Linked DNA regions of Homo sapiens. The protein of the gene in region 3 purifies or fractionates together with the protein of the main gene of each other region. This does not show direct contact. Each region holds a gene or a part of one and is shown on either strand. Other genes may lie near its edges.

The links.
Region 1: the proteins of ACBD7 (region 3) and TBC1D24 purify together in Homo sapiens (affinity purification with mass spectrometry; 2 studies listed by BioGRID and IntAct, with this or other methods). This does not show direct contact.
Region 2: the proteins of ACBD7 (region 3) and SUGP1 purify together in Homo sapiens (affinity purification with mass spectrometry; 2 studies listed by BioGRID and IntAct, with this or other methods). This does not show direct contact.

The regions. Positions count from the first base shown.
Region 1 is NC_000016.10:2,473,635-2,478,068, forward strand, and holds the start of TBC1D24 (TBC1 domain family member 24), read left to right. Parts: upstream 1-1,492; 5' UTR 1,493-1,536; intron 1,537-4,434. Other genes in the region: NTN3 (netrin-3 precursor), read left to right, coding at 122-471. UniProt on the Homo sapiens protein: May act as a GTPase-activating protein for Rab family protein(s). Involved in neuronal projections development, probably through a negative modulation of ARF6 function. Involved in the regulation of synaptic vesicle trafficking.
Region 2 is NC_000019.10:19,313,954-19,317,595, reverse strand, and holds part of SUGP1 (SURP and G-patch domain-containing protein 1), read left to right. Parts: intron 1-1,002; coding exon 1,003-1,174; intron 1,175-3,642.
Region 3 is NC_000010.11:15,085,959-15,090,057, reverse strand, and holds the start of ACBD7 (acyl-CoA-binding domain-containing protein 7), read left to right. Parts: upstream 1-1,281; 5' UTR 1,282-1,329; coding exon 1,330-1,341; intron 1,342-4,099. UniProt on the Homo sapiens protein: Binds medium- and long-chain acyl-CoA esters.

The DNA.
Region 1 (4,434 bases), on a different chromosome or scaffold from region 3:
TCCACGGGCAGCGACCCCGCCCCTTCAGCCCCCACTGCCCTCCTGGTGTCCTCCCCGTGCCTCCCCCTACCGCGGGCAGGCCGCCCCTTCCTGACCCCGCCCCCTCTCGCTCTCCCCGCAGCGGTGCAGGTGGCGGTGGGTGCGCGCGGCGAGGCGCGCGGCGCGTGGACACGCTTCCCGGTGGCGGTGCTCGCCGTGTTCCGGAGCGGAGAGGAGCGCGCGCGGCGCGGGAGTAGCGCGCTGTGGGTGCCCGCCGGGGATGCGGCCTGCGGCTGCCCGCGCCTGCTCCCCGGCCGCCGCTACCTCCTGCTGGGGGGCGGGCCTGGAGCCGCGGCTGGGGGCGCGGGGGGCCGGGGGCCCGGGCTCATCGCCGCCCGCGGAAGCCTCGTGCTACCCTGGAGGGACGCGTGGACGCGGCGCCTGCGGAGGCTGCAGCGACGCGAACGGCGGGGGCGCTGCAGCGCCGCCTGAGCCCGCCGGCTGGGCAGGGCGGCCGCTGCTCCCACATCTAGGCGCACGTTCACCCTGTGCCTTCGCCTGCCAAGGAGTCCTTGCTCGCGTCGCGCGTGTCGCCACCTGGGCCGCCGCCCCGTCCCCGCCGGCAGCTCCCTCGGTACCTCCCGTCTGGCCCTGGGGGGATGTGACCGGCGCAGCGACAGCCCGCCCCGCACAGAGGCAGATGATATGGCACACCCGGAGGACCCCATGGTCTCCCGCCCTCTGGCTGTCGGCCCTGTCCCAGGGGCACTGGGATACCCGGAAGGCTGTGAATCCTTCGTGATGCCGGGCCCTCTCGGGGATCTCAGATCATCCCCGGGGCCGCTGTGATGCACCCCCACCTGTGCGGCGACCCGCCAGGGAGCGCACTGACCTCCCCAAAGACTGTGGCCACCGCAGGCGCCTTGGACCCCCATGGGGGGACAGGGCGTCCCCTGCCTCCTGCAGCCCCACGAGGGCGGCGGCCTTGGCCCCTGCGGGCTGGGCGTCCGCGTCCGGGCGCCCCGCGGCGTCTGCTGCCGGGTCCCGTAACTTTCTTGGCCGCCTGTGTCCCCGTCTGCCGGCTCCGTCCGGCCGTCCCTCTCTCTGCCGCGTCTCTGACCCTCGGCGCCACAGCTCCTCAGCTCAGGGCCCGTCCCAGAACCTCCTTCCAGCCCTTCTCCCCCGACTCGGGAAGGGACGTCGTGCCCACGCGGTTCCGGATCCACGCGTGACCCGGCCGGACCGCGACTCCGACAGGCGGCTGTCCGGGCCCCCGATGCCCTCGGCAGGGCCGTGCCACCCCCCGCCCCCCTTGGCTTGTCCCCCCGGGACCGCACTGCCGTTGCCTCCTCTCCGCACGGGACCGGTTCCCGGCCGGCCCCAGCTTCCGCCGCTGCGGCCGCCGACCGTCAGCGCGCATGCCCAGAGCCGGGCAGGCCGGAGCCCCGCGGGCTCTCCGGGGTGGGCACAGGGCGACAGCTCGGCGGGGGCGGGGCCGAGCACGCGCGTGCGCAGAAAGGCCGGCGCGGCAGGCTGAGGAGAAAGCGGCGCGCGGAGGTGGGTGCGCTCGGGGCGTGCGGGGGGCGCGCGGCGGGGTGGCGGGTGGCGGGGCCGGGTCCCCGCTGTCACCGCGGTCGGCGCGTGCTGGGGGCGGGAGCGTGGGGGCCGGGCTGCGGGCCCCATTCGAGGCGGGGATCCCCGGCCACGCGCGGGTTGGGGGCTCCAGAGCCCGGCACCGCCCGGCGCTGCAGCTGCGGCTTGGCCTACGGGAGGGGGCGCAGGAGCGGGACCCCCTGGGCGCGAGGCCCGATCCCCGCCCGGTCGCTGGCCCGCGGCCCGGCCCAGGGCATGGTGTCGTCTGGAAGAGTGACTGTGTCACTGTTTCCTTGGGGCGCTTTCCGTCTCCGCAGGGTCGGAAATCCTCTTGGGGGCTCGGTGAGATTGCAACAGATTCTGATACGCCCTGCCCTGTGGACCTGCAGCGGCCCCGGGCCCCGCCCCGCCCCGCCCAGGGATGACACACGCCCCCACCGACCACCCGCTTGGGGGTCCGCCAGCCCCCGGCCCTGTCCAGTGGGGGGCCCCTCTGGGTGCGCCGTGCCAGGCGGCCGCTGTCCTTCGGGCCCTGGGAGGTGGAAGCCAGGGACTCCCAGCCCTGAGCCAGCACAGCGGAGGGGAGAGCCGGCCCCACCTGGGCTGGGCTGCACCTGTTCCCGCCCCCTCCAGGCGGGAGTCCCCGCGGCCTGGCCACAGGCCTTCTTTGATGGCCGTGCCCCGCAGGGAAACGCGCTGTGGCCCCCGGGTTACTGCTTGCGGGGGTGATATTAAAGGTCAAAGGTTGTCTAAAAGCCACCTGGGTGGTGTGGAGGTGCAGGTGGGCTGTTAGGTTGGTGGCTGTGGTTGTGAAGCCGATGTCACTGTCTTTACCCAGCAGCTTATTCCAGAAAGGGGGCGTCAGCCTGCCCTTCCAGTGCCGATAGAAGCACTAGCGGGTGATTTTTCCCTGTTTTGCTGTGTTTGCTCTGGAGTCACCAGGTGACTTCCAGGCAGTGTGCAGAAGGAACCGTCCCATTATTTGGCACGTGGGCCGTTTCCTCCACCCGAGGTCCAGGGCTCCGTCTTCACAGTCTGTCCTCAGCACACAGTAGGCACCTGTAGATGGCACACGTGGCGTTTCCTCCGCCCGAGGGCCAGGGCTCTGTCTTCAGCACACAGTAGGCACCTGTAAATGTTTGCTCAGTTGCGGCGAAGACAAGCAGTCAGGTTCTTTTCATTTTAAGGAACACACACTGGGAAAAAAAACCAATCCAGATTAGAGAAGATCAGAAAATCTTACGAAGATTTTACAGTTACTGTTCCTAGCCTGTGGCGTGACCCCTGCGTGCACCGCCTTTTATTCTGAGGGTTGATCCTCATCTAATCTGAACACTCAGATAGAGGCTTTACATGGAGGACTTATTGGGGAGTGCTTGCTCTACTTAGAAGCCTGTCTTTCCCTGTGAAGAGGGCGGGAGCCACGCTGTTCATCTTTGCTTCCCCACAGCCTGGCCAGGGCCGGACCAGAGGTTTTCTCTACATGATGGTTGAAGTGGATCAAGGTCCTTTTGTCGGAGTGATAGATGTCAACTATTGCAGTGGCTTTCCACTGGGTTGAGGGTGACCTTCCGAGATGCAGAAGTAATCTAGGCAAGGTTTTCATAACAACAATAAATTTGGCCACCCAGGGTCTGTGAAGTCACCTGTAGGGTAGCCTTACTAGCTCTCGCTGACCACACCTGCCAGGAGTGTCCAGCAGGCTCGAGTGACCTTGGGCATGCAGTGTTGCTCTTAATTATCTACAGATTGAGCCAAGCTCAGAAAACATATTAAATGTTTGCCTTTAGATGGTTTCTGGTTTAAAGTACATAAGGACAATGAAGCAGGTTACAAAAAAAGCACTTAACATTTACCCTGTTCAATGTTTTACCTGTCTGAGCATACCTTTTCTGTTATGACAACTCTGTAAATGGAAGAAAGAAGTCCTTTTCAACTCAAAGCAGCAATTTCAGTGGCTGTTTCAAACATTGCCTTTCAATTGGAGATAAAATCAAAGAAACAAAACCTCAGGCTTTTTACTGAGGACCAACTTGAATTCATTATTCAATGATTTTCTGTATCCTTTCAACATGTGTTTGTTAAGCGAGGTGCGGTGGCTCACGCCTGCAATCCCAACACTTTGGGAGGCTGAGGTGGAAGGATCGCATGAGCCCAGGAGTTCAAGACCACCTTGGGCAACATAGGGAGGTCTCGTCTCTATAAAAAATTAGCCAAGTATGGTGGCATGTGCCTGTGGTCCCAGCTACTTGGGAAGCTGAGGCAGAAGGATCACTTGAGCCTGGGAGCTCAAGACTGCAGTGAGCTGTGATTGTGCCACTGCACTCAAGCCAGGGCAACAGAGTGAGACCCTGTCTCTGAAAAACAAAACAATAAAAATGCATTTATTGAATTCACACTTCATAGGAGGCACCATGCCGTGTGTTCTGTGGATTTGGTGTTAAGACTTGGTCTCTGCCCTTGAGCTTATAGTGCAGTGAGGAGACAGGAGAATAAACACATGGTAGAAGCTCCCACAGAGGTGGACAGAGCCTTCTGTGGGCGCAAAGGCGTGGCATCCAGCTGGATTGTGGTGGGGGTGGGGCTCTGAGATGGACTTGAGCTTCATTTTGAAGGATGATCAGGACCGGCAAGAACAAGTGAGGGAAAGTGCCTTCCCCCGAAGGGACAGTGGATATAAAGTGACAGGCGTGGTTCCTGCCCACCAGCTCTTGGGAGAAGGGCAGTGGTGGCCCCAGGGTAGATGGGGTGAAGTGAGTGAGCTAGGCTGACAGCAGACTGGGAAAAGCCTTGAGTTCCACCTGGGAGTTTGAATTCACCCTGAGTGGCATGAAGCCTCTGAAGATCTTGGGTTTGTGAGTG
Region 2 (3,642 bases), on a different chromosome or scaffold from region 3:
CAGTGAGCTGAGATCACACCACTGCACTCCAGCCTGAGAAACAGAGCCAGACCCTGTCTCAAAAAAAGACCCAATGGATCTTGCATTCTTCATCTTAGTGCTTCTCCATCACTCCCCAAAGCCCTTATAATAAAGCACAGATGCTCTGACATGCCTCACCTCTGCCTGTCCCTGGAGCAGGCCCCTCTGACACTGGGCACTTGCTGCTCCTTGGATGTACCAGGCTTCTTCCTGCCTTGAGCTTTCACATCTGCTCCTTCTTCTGCCCAGATCATCTCCCATTTGGCTTTTCATGACGCTGGCTTCTTATTTGTTTTTTCTGGTTTAAATGTCTCCTCTTCTAGTGTTTATTTTCTGCCTGTCCTACCTGCATATGTACTCTCCTGTTACTTTTTCACCCTTTTTTGGTTTTCAGCAGAGCTCTTACCACATTGTGCACTTACTTTTTTTTTTTTTTTTGAGACAGAGTCTTGCTCTGTTGCCAGGCTGGAGTGCAGTGGCACCATCTCGGCTCACTGCAACCTTCACCTCCCTGGTTCAAGCAATTTTCCTGCCTCGGCCTCCCTAGTAGCTGGGATTACAGGCACATGCCACCATACCCAGCTAATTTTTGTATTTTTAGTAGAGACAGGGTTTCACCACGTTGGCCAGGCTGGTCTCGATCTCCTGACCTCAAGTGATCCGCCTGCCCCTGCCTCCCAAAGTGCTGGGATTGCAGGCATGAGCCTCTGCACCAGCCCGAAAGTTACTTTTTTATTATGGGTCTATTGTCTTCCCAGCCTGAAGCGAGTCCCACGTGGGCAGAGACCTGTGTTCTCTTGCATAGCACGTAGTAAGTACAGGGTATGGTATGCAGCAGGCACTCTGTAAGTGTTTGCTGAATAAATGAACTAATAGACATATAAATTAATCTGAACATCAGTTGCTCTCTGGCCTGTCACAGCTTCTTGGGGTGTTTGTGGAGTAAGGGTGATTTCCGACGTACTCCTTTTCCCTCCCCAGGAAAGGCTAACCGGTGGTTTGGGGTTGCTCCCCCTAAATCTGGAAAAATGAACATGAACATCCTTCACCAGGAAGAGCTCATCGCTCAGAAGAAACGGGAAATTGAAGCCAAAATGGAACAGAAAGCCAAGCAGAATCAGGTGGCCAGCCCTCAGCCCCCACATCCTGGCGAGTAAGTGCCTGCTGGGGCCTGGATGGGGCCTGGATGTGAGTCTTTGAGGGTCACCAGCACAGGGTTTGGCTTGTGAGGGCAGTCAGCATGTGCTTGCACCCAGCCATAGCCTGATGATCCAAGGAATGACCCAGATGCCCTTGGGAGGCTCACTGTGGCAAGAGAGAAATGAGGGGTATGTGGAAGCCCAGAGGACAGCCTGCCAACTCATCCACTCAGCAGTTATTTACTGCCAGCCAGCTGTGGTGCAGAGGGAAGGGGTATAACAGAGTAAAAATCTCTGCCTTGAGTTCAGGTGTGCTGCCTCACACCTGTAATCTCAGCCCTTTGGGAGGCTGAGACAGAGGATCACTAGAGGCCAGGAGTTTGAGACCAGCTTTGCCAACATAGTGAAACCCCATCTCTACTAAAAAATACAAAAAATTAGCTGGGCATTGTGGCACGTGCCTGTAGTCCCAGCTGCTCAGGAGGCTGAGGCACGAGAATCTCTGGGATCTGGCAGGCAAAGGTTGCAGTGAGTTGAGATCGTGCCACTGTACACTACCCTGGGCCATAGAGTGAGACTCTGTCTCAAAAAAAAAACAAAAAAAAACCTCTGCCCTTATGGGGTGACAAACTACTGGCAAAGGGATGCAGGTGCCGCCCCAGAGCTCCTGGAAGATAACAAAGGCAGTGTGTTCCCAGGCCCCGTGGCCACAGTAAGGCCACAGAGCTTTGCATCCTGAAAGCCCAGGTGGAGCTGGCCCACTGAGGAAGCAGAGAAAGGCCTGCCCAGCAGAGGGCAGGAAGGGGAGAGAGCCCATATGTGGAGGGCCAGCCTGAGCTGCTGTACCAAAGGGGCTGTCCCTTAGTGGATGGCAGGTGGATGATAGCTCAGCAAGGGTTTCCACTTGCCTGTCCTGAGAAACACTGAGGGCACCAAGGGTTTTGATCAAGGGGTGATGTTGTGATGAGGGTGACCAGATCCAAGCTTTTCAGGCTGGAGATTGATAATCTGAGAGGCAGGCCCCTTCCTCTGGGGTCTGGAGTGTAGAGTGTGTTAACCTTCCCCAAGGCCTTGTTCCAGCTCCAGCTTTTCCTTTTTTTTTTTCTTTGAGACAGGGTTTTGCTCTGTCACCCAGGCCGGAGTGCAGTGGTGGGATCATGGCTCACCGAAGCCTTGAGCTCTTGGGCTTTAGCAGTTCTCTTGCCTCAGCCTCCCAAGTAGCTGGGACCACAGGCACGTGCCACCATGCCTGGCTAATTTTTTTCTATTTTTGTAGAGATGAGGTCTTGTTATGTTGCCCAGGTTGGTCCCGAACTCCTAGACTCAAGTGATCCTCCCACCTTGGCCTCCCAAAGGGATTACAGGTGTGAGCCACTGCACCCAGCAGCGTTTGCCTTTTCTTCTTTCTTTTTCTTTTTTTGTTGCCTAGGCTAGAGTGCAGTGGCACGATCTCAGCTCACCACAACCTCTGCCTCCAAGTTTCAAGCGATTCTCCTGCCTCAGCCTCCCAAGTAGCTGGGATTACAGGCATGCGCTGCCACGCCCAGCCAATTTTGTATTTTTAGTAGAGGCGGGGTTTCTCCTTGTTGGTCAGGCTGGTCTCAAACTCCTGACCTCAGGTGATCCGCCCCTCTCAGTCTCCCAGAGTGTTGGGATTACAGGCGTGAGCCACTGCACCCGGCCAAGAACCAGCATTTTTATCTCCCAGTATTTGTTACCAGTGGTTTTCAGGTGGGAGCCGTTCGCTGTACTCTGCAGCCTGAATGTGATTTCTTGTCTTTCCTTGTCCCTACCTCTTCCTGGTCCCTCCTGAGTGAAGTGCTCAGGGTGTGAGTATGGGGGCAGGCCCAGGAACTGAGGGGTGCCCAGAATGTCCTGGTTGTTTAGTGTCAACATTGAACCTTCTTTTTCATATAAAATTACTTCTACTCCTTCTTTTTTTAAACTTTAAAGGTAATTCATGTACATGGTAGGAAATCCAGGAAGTAGAAGAGGGGTAAACAAAAAACCAAAGTCACTCATAACTCTGCAACACAGAGACAAGCACTGGTTGAGTGTTGAGGTGTTTTTCTGTTTTTTTTAATTTTATTTAATTAATTAATTTATTTATTTTTGAGACGAGTCTTGCTCTGTCACACAGGCTGGAGTGTAGTGGTGCCATCTCGGCTCACTACAACCTCCGCCTGTTGGATTCAGGAGATTCTCCTGCTCAGCCTCTCGAGTAGCTGGGATTACCAGTGTGCGCCACGATGCCCGGCTATTTATTTATTTATTTATTTATTTATTTATTTTATTTTTTGAGACAGAGTCTCACTCAGCCGCCCAGGCTGGAGTGCAGTGGTGTGATCTTGGCTCACTGCGACCTCCGCCTCTTGGGCTCAAGTGATTCTCCTGCTCAGCCTCCCGAGTAGCTGGGATTACAGGAACCCACCATCGTGCCCGGCTAATTTTTGTATTTTAGTAGAGATGGGGTTTCATCATG
Region 3 (4,099 bases):
CTGTGCCTTTACCATAATTAAAAACAAGTTAAGCTGATTATAGCATGTGTCCAGAATTTAGGTGGTTTTGCTTTATAAAGAGAAGAGGTGCAAACCACAGGCCACTTTCTCTCATGATAAACAGCGCCTGGAGGCAGCGTGGAGGAGACACATCCATCATCCACGTTTCTAGGAATAATGGACATGAGAGAAGTATGTATAAAGAAGGAATCCTGTGCTTCGGGAAGCCGAGGTGGGAGGATCGCTTGAGGTCAGGAGTTCGAGACCAGCCTGGGCAACCTAGTGAGACGCCCCCCCCACCACCTCTCTTAAAAAAAAAAAAAACACATATATATATATTTTTTAATTTGCACTTTTAATTTATAAAATTTTTAATTTTTAACATTTTAAATATATATAAATTTATATATAATTTTTAGAGAAAAAATATATAATATATATATACCTAGGAAGACCCCAACCTCTGAAAAAAATTTATATATATAAATTTTTAATTTATAAAATTTTAAATACATATTTACTTATTCTTTTTTTTTTTTGAGACGGAGTTTCACACTTGTTGCCCAGGCTGGAGTGCAATGGTGCAATCTTGGCTCACCACAGCCTCCACCTCCCGGGTTCAAGCGATTCTCCTGCCTCAGCCTCCCGAGTAACTGGGATTACAGGTATGCGCCACCACACCCGGCTAATTTTGTATTTTTAGTAGAGACAGGGTTTCTCCATGTTGGTCAGGCTGGTCTCGAACTCCCGACCTCAGGTGATCTGCCGGCCTCAGCCTCCCAAAGTGTTGGGATTACAGGCGTGAGGCACCGCGCCCGGCCAATACATATTTACATGTATAAATTTTTTTAAATTGAAAAAATTACATATGTATTTTAAGAGAGTTGGGGCGGGTCTCTCTAGATAAATATATATCTCTCTCTCTATATATATATATATTTTTTCTCTCTCTCTCTCTCTCTCTGTCTCTCTCCTTCTTTCTTTCTTTCGAAGGCATTCCAGGGGAGGCCTGTGCCCTACGGAGACCTCTCTGGGTTTCCTGCAAAGAACCGCTTGAGAAAGAATAGAAGAGAGAGCCAAGAGCGGAGAGAAACTCATTTAAATTCTCCTGTCTTCGCCTTTCCATTTGCAGCCTGGGGAACCCGGCGTGCAGTACCGCTCACCGCCCAGCCTCGCCCCCGCGCCCGCGACCAATGGGAGGCGGCCGGGCCGGGAGCGCGGCCAATGGCAGCGGCCGGAGGAGACGCGGCCGTTTAAGAAGCGGTGGGTGCGAGAGGGGGCAGAGCACCGGACGACAACAGCAGCAGCAACAACGCGGCAGCCGCCACCATGGCCCTGCAGGTACCCGGGGCGCGGGGAGGCCACGCGGGAGGGGCGCTCCGCGAGGGGAGTGCTTAAGTGGGGCTCCGGGTGGGCTTGGCGCCCCTGGGAGCGGTCGGCGGTGACCCGGGGGACACGCCCACTCCTTCCCCAGCGCCCCAGATGGCAGTGTAGACCGCACCTGTGCCTGCTGACGGCGAGCCAGGGCTCCCAGGGCAACCCTTCCGGACCCCAGGGGCCGGGTGAGCGGAAAAGCAGGCAAGGCAGGAGCGCCGGGGAGCACGGAGCGGGCCTCCTCCTCTCCGTCTCCGAGAGGGAGTCGAGATCCCCCGCTCCCGCCCCTTCGCTCGTTGGGACCTCCAGGACCTCTCTTAGTGTCATACTGAGCAGAAGAGATCTGTGAGGCTCCAATTTAAAAATACTGTTTTATAGGTATGTGAAAAAAATTGTTAAGGGTGGAAAACTTTGGAAAAGACAACAAATATAAAGTAATAATTACTGATAATAATCCAATGATAATTCCTTCACCCAGGTGATAATCACTGCTACATGCTAGGGTAATTCCTAGTATGTCCTAGTATGTTATTTTCCATGTGTGTATGTGTGTGGCATATATCTACACACATACCTATGATGTTATTGTGTATATAGTTTTATTCCTACACGTAAAACAGTAATATGAGCATTTTCTCATTATTAAATATTCTAAAATGTAATTTTATTTTTCTTTTTTGAGACAGAGTCTCATTCTGTTGCCCAGGTTGAGGCGCAGTTGGTGCGATCTCTGCTCACTGCAACCTCTGCTCACTGCAACCTCCACCTCCCAGGTGTAAGCGATTCTCATGTCTCAGCCTCCGCAGTAGCTGGGGTTACAGGTGCACGCCACCACGCCCGGCTGATTTTTGTAATTTTTTTTTTTTTTTTTTAAGATGGAGTCTCATTCTGTCACCCAGGCTGTTTGAGATGGAGTCTCACTCTGTCACCCAGGCTGGAGTGCAGTGGTGCAATCTCAGCTCACCGCAACCTCCGCCTCCCAAGTTCAAGTGATTCTCCTATCTCAGCCTCCCAAATAGCTGGGATTATAGGCGTGCGCCGCCACTCCTGGCTATTTTTCTCTATTTTTAGTGGAGATGGGGTTTCGCTGTGTTGGCCAGACTGGTCTCCAACTCCTGACCTCAAGTGATCCACCCGCCTTGGACACCCAAAGTGCTGGGATTTCAGGCGTGAGCCACCACGCCCGGCCTCTAAAATGTAATCTTTTACATGCACAAAATTTCATAGAACGTGGCTCACTTCTTTAACCATTTCAGTCAGGCAAGACGTTATCCTGCGTAAAGTTGTAATACATACTTCAGGGCCATCTGGGTTCAAATGTGTGCCTCACTTCTACTTAGCCTGTGACATAGTTAACCTCTCCGTGCCTCAGTTTCTTTATCTAAAAATGCAGGAGAGATACATTAAATGAGTTATATGTATAAAGCATTTAAAACAATGTTTGGCATGTGGTAGAAGTCCAATAAGGATAAGCTTGTGGTGGAACATTTAGTTTGTTTGTTTTGAGACAGGGTCTCACTCTGTCACCCAGGCTGGAGTGCAATGGCATGATCTCAGCTCACTGCAGCCTTGACCTCCTGGGCTCAAGTGATCCTGCCACTTCAGCCTCCCAAGTAGCTTGGACCACAGGCACCTGCCACCACACCTGGCTATTTTTTTTTTTTTTTTTTGAGATGGAGTTTCACTCTTGTTGCCCAGGCTGGAGTGCAATGGCGCAATCTTGGCTCACCGCAACCTCCACCTTCTGGGTTCAACCGATTCTCCTGCCTCAGCCTCCTGAGTAGCTGGGATTACAGGCATGTGCCACCACACCCAATTAATTTTGTATTTTTAGTAGAGATGGAGTTTCTCCATGTTGGTCAGGGTGGTCTCAAACTCCTGACCTCAGGTGATCTGCCCGCCTCAGCCTCCCAAAGTGCTTGGATTACAGGTGTGAGCCACCATGCCAGGCTTTCCTTTTTTGTATCTTTTGTAGACATTTGGTTTTGCTGTGTTGCCCAGGCTGATCTCCAACTCCTGAGCTCAAGCGATCCACCCGCCTTGGCCTCCCAAAGTGCTGGGATTACAGGCATGAGCCACCTTGCCTGGCTCAAATATTCTTGTGCGTGACTTATGTGTTTATACTGAACTCTCTCCAAAATGATCAAAATGTTCTTTCTAAAATTTCCTGAAAGATCTGAAAGTTTCCTTTTTAGCTTAGTACTTTGGTTTTCTGTTGTTGTTTGCTTTTAAAATACTTGCAACGAGGAATTAAGAGTTGAGGAACATCACAGAAAAGCAGTATGCTAAGAAGTATTAACATCGACCCATGATATTATCTACTAATAATGCATTTGCGTGTCAACAATATTGGGGGAAGGTAACTTTTTTTTTTTTTGAGATGGTGTCTTGCTCTGTTGCCCAGGCTGGAGTGCAATGGCGTGATCTTGACTCACTGCAACCTCCACCTCCCAGATTCAAGCAATTCTCCTGCCTTAGCCTCCTAGTAGCTGGAATTACAGGTGCCTGCCACCACGGCCGGCTAATTTTTGTATTTTTAGTAGAGACAGGGTTTCACCATGTTGGCCAGGCTGGTCTTGAACTCCTGACCTCAAGTGATCTGCCTGCCTCAGCCTCCCAAAGTGCTGGGATTACAGATGTGAGCTACCACGCCCAGCTGAAAGTAACTTTTAAAAATGACAACTAATAACTGGCTGACATATTGAAATCTCTTCTGTCTTTATTA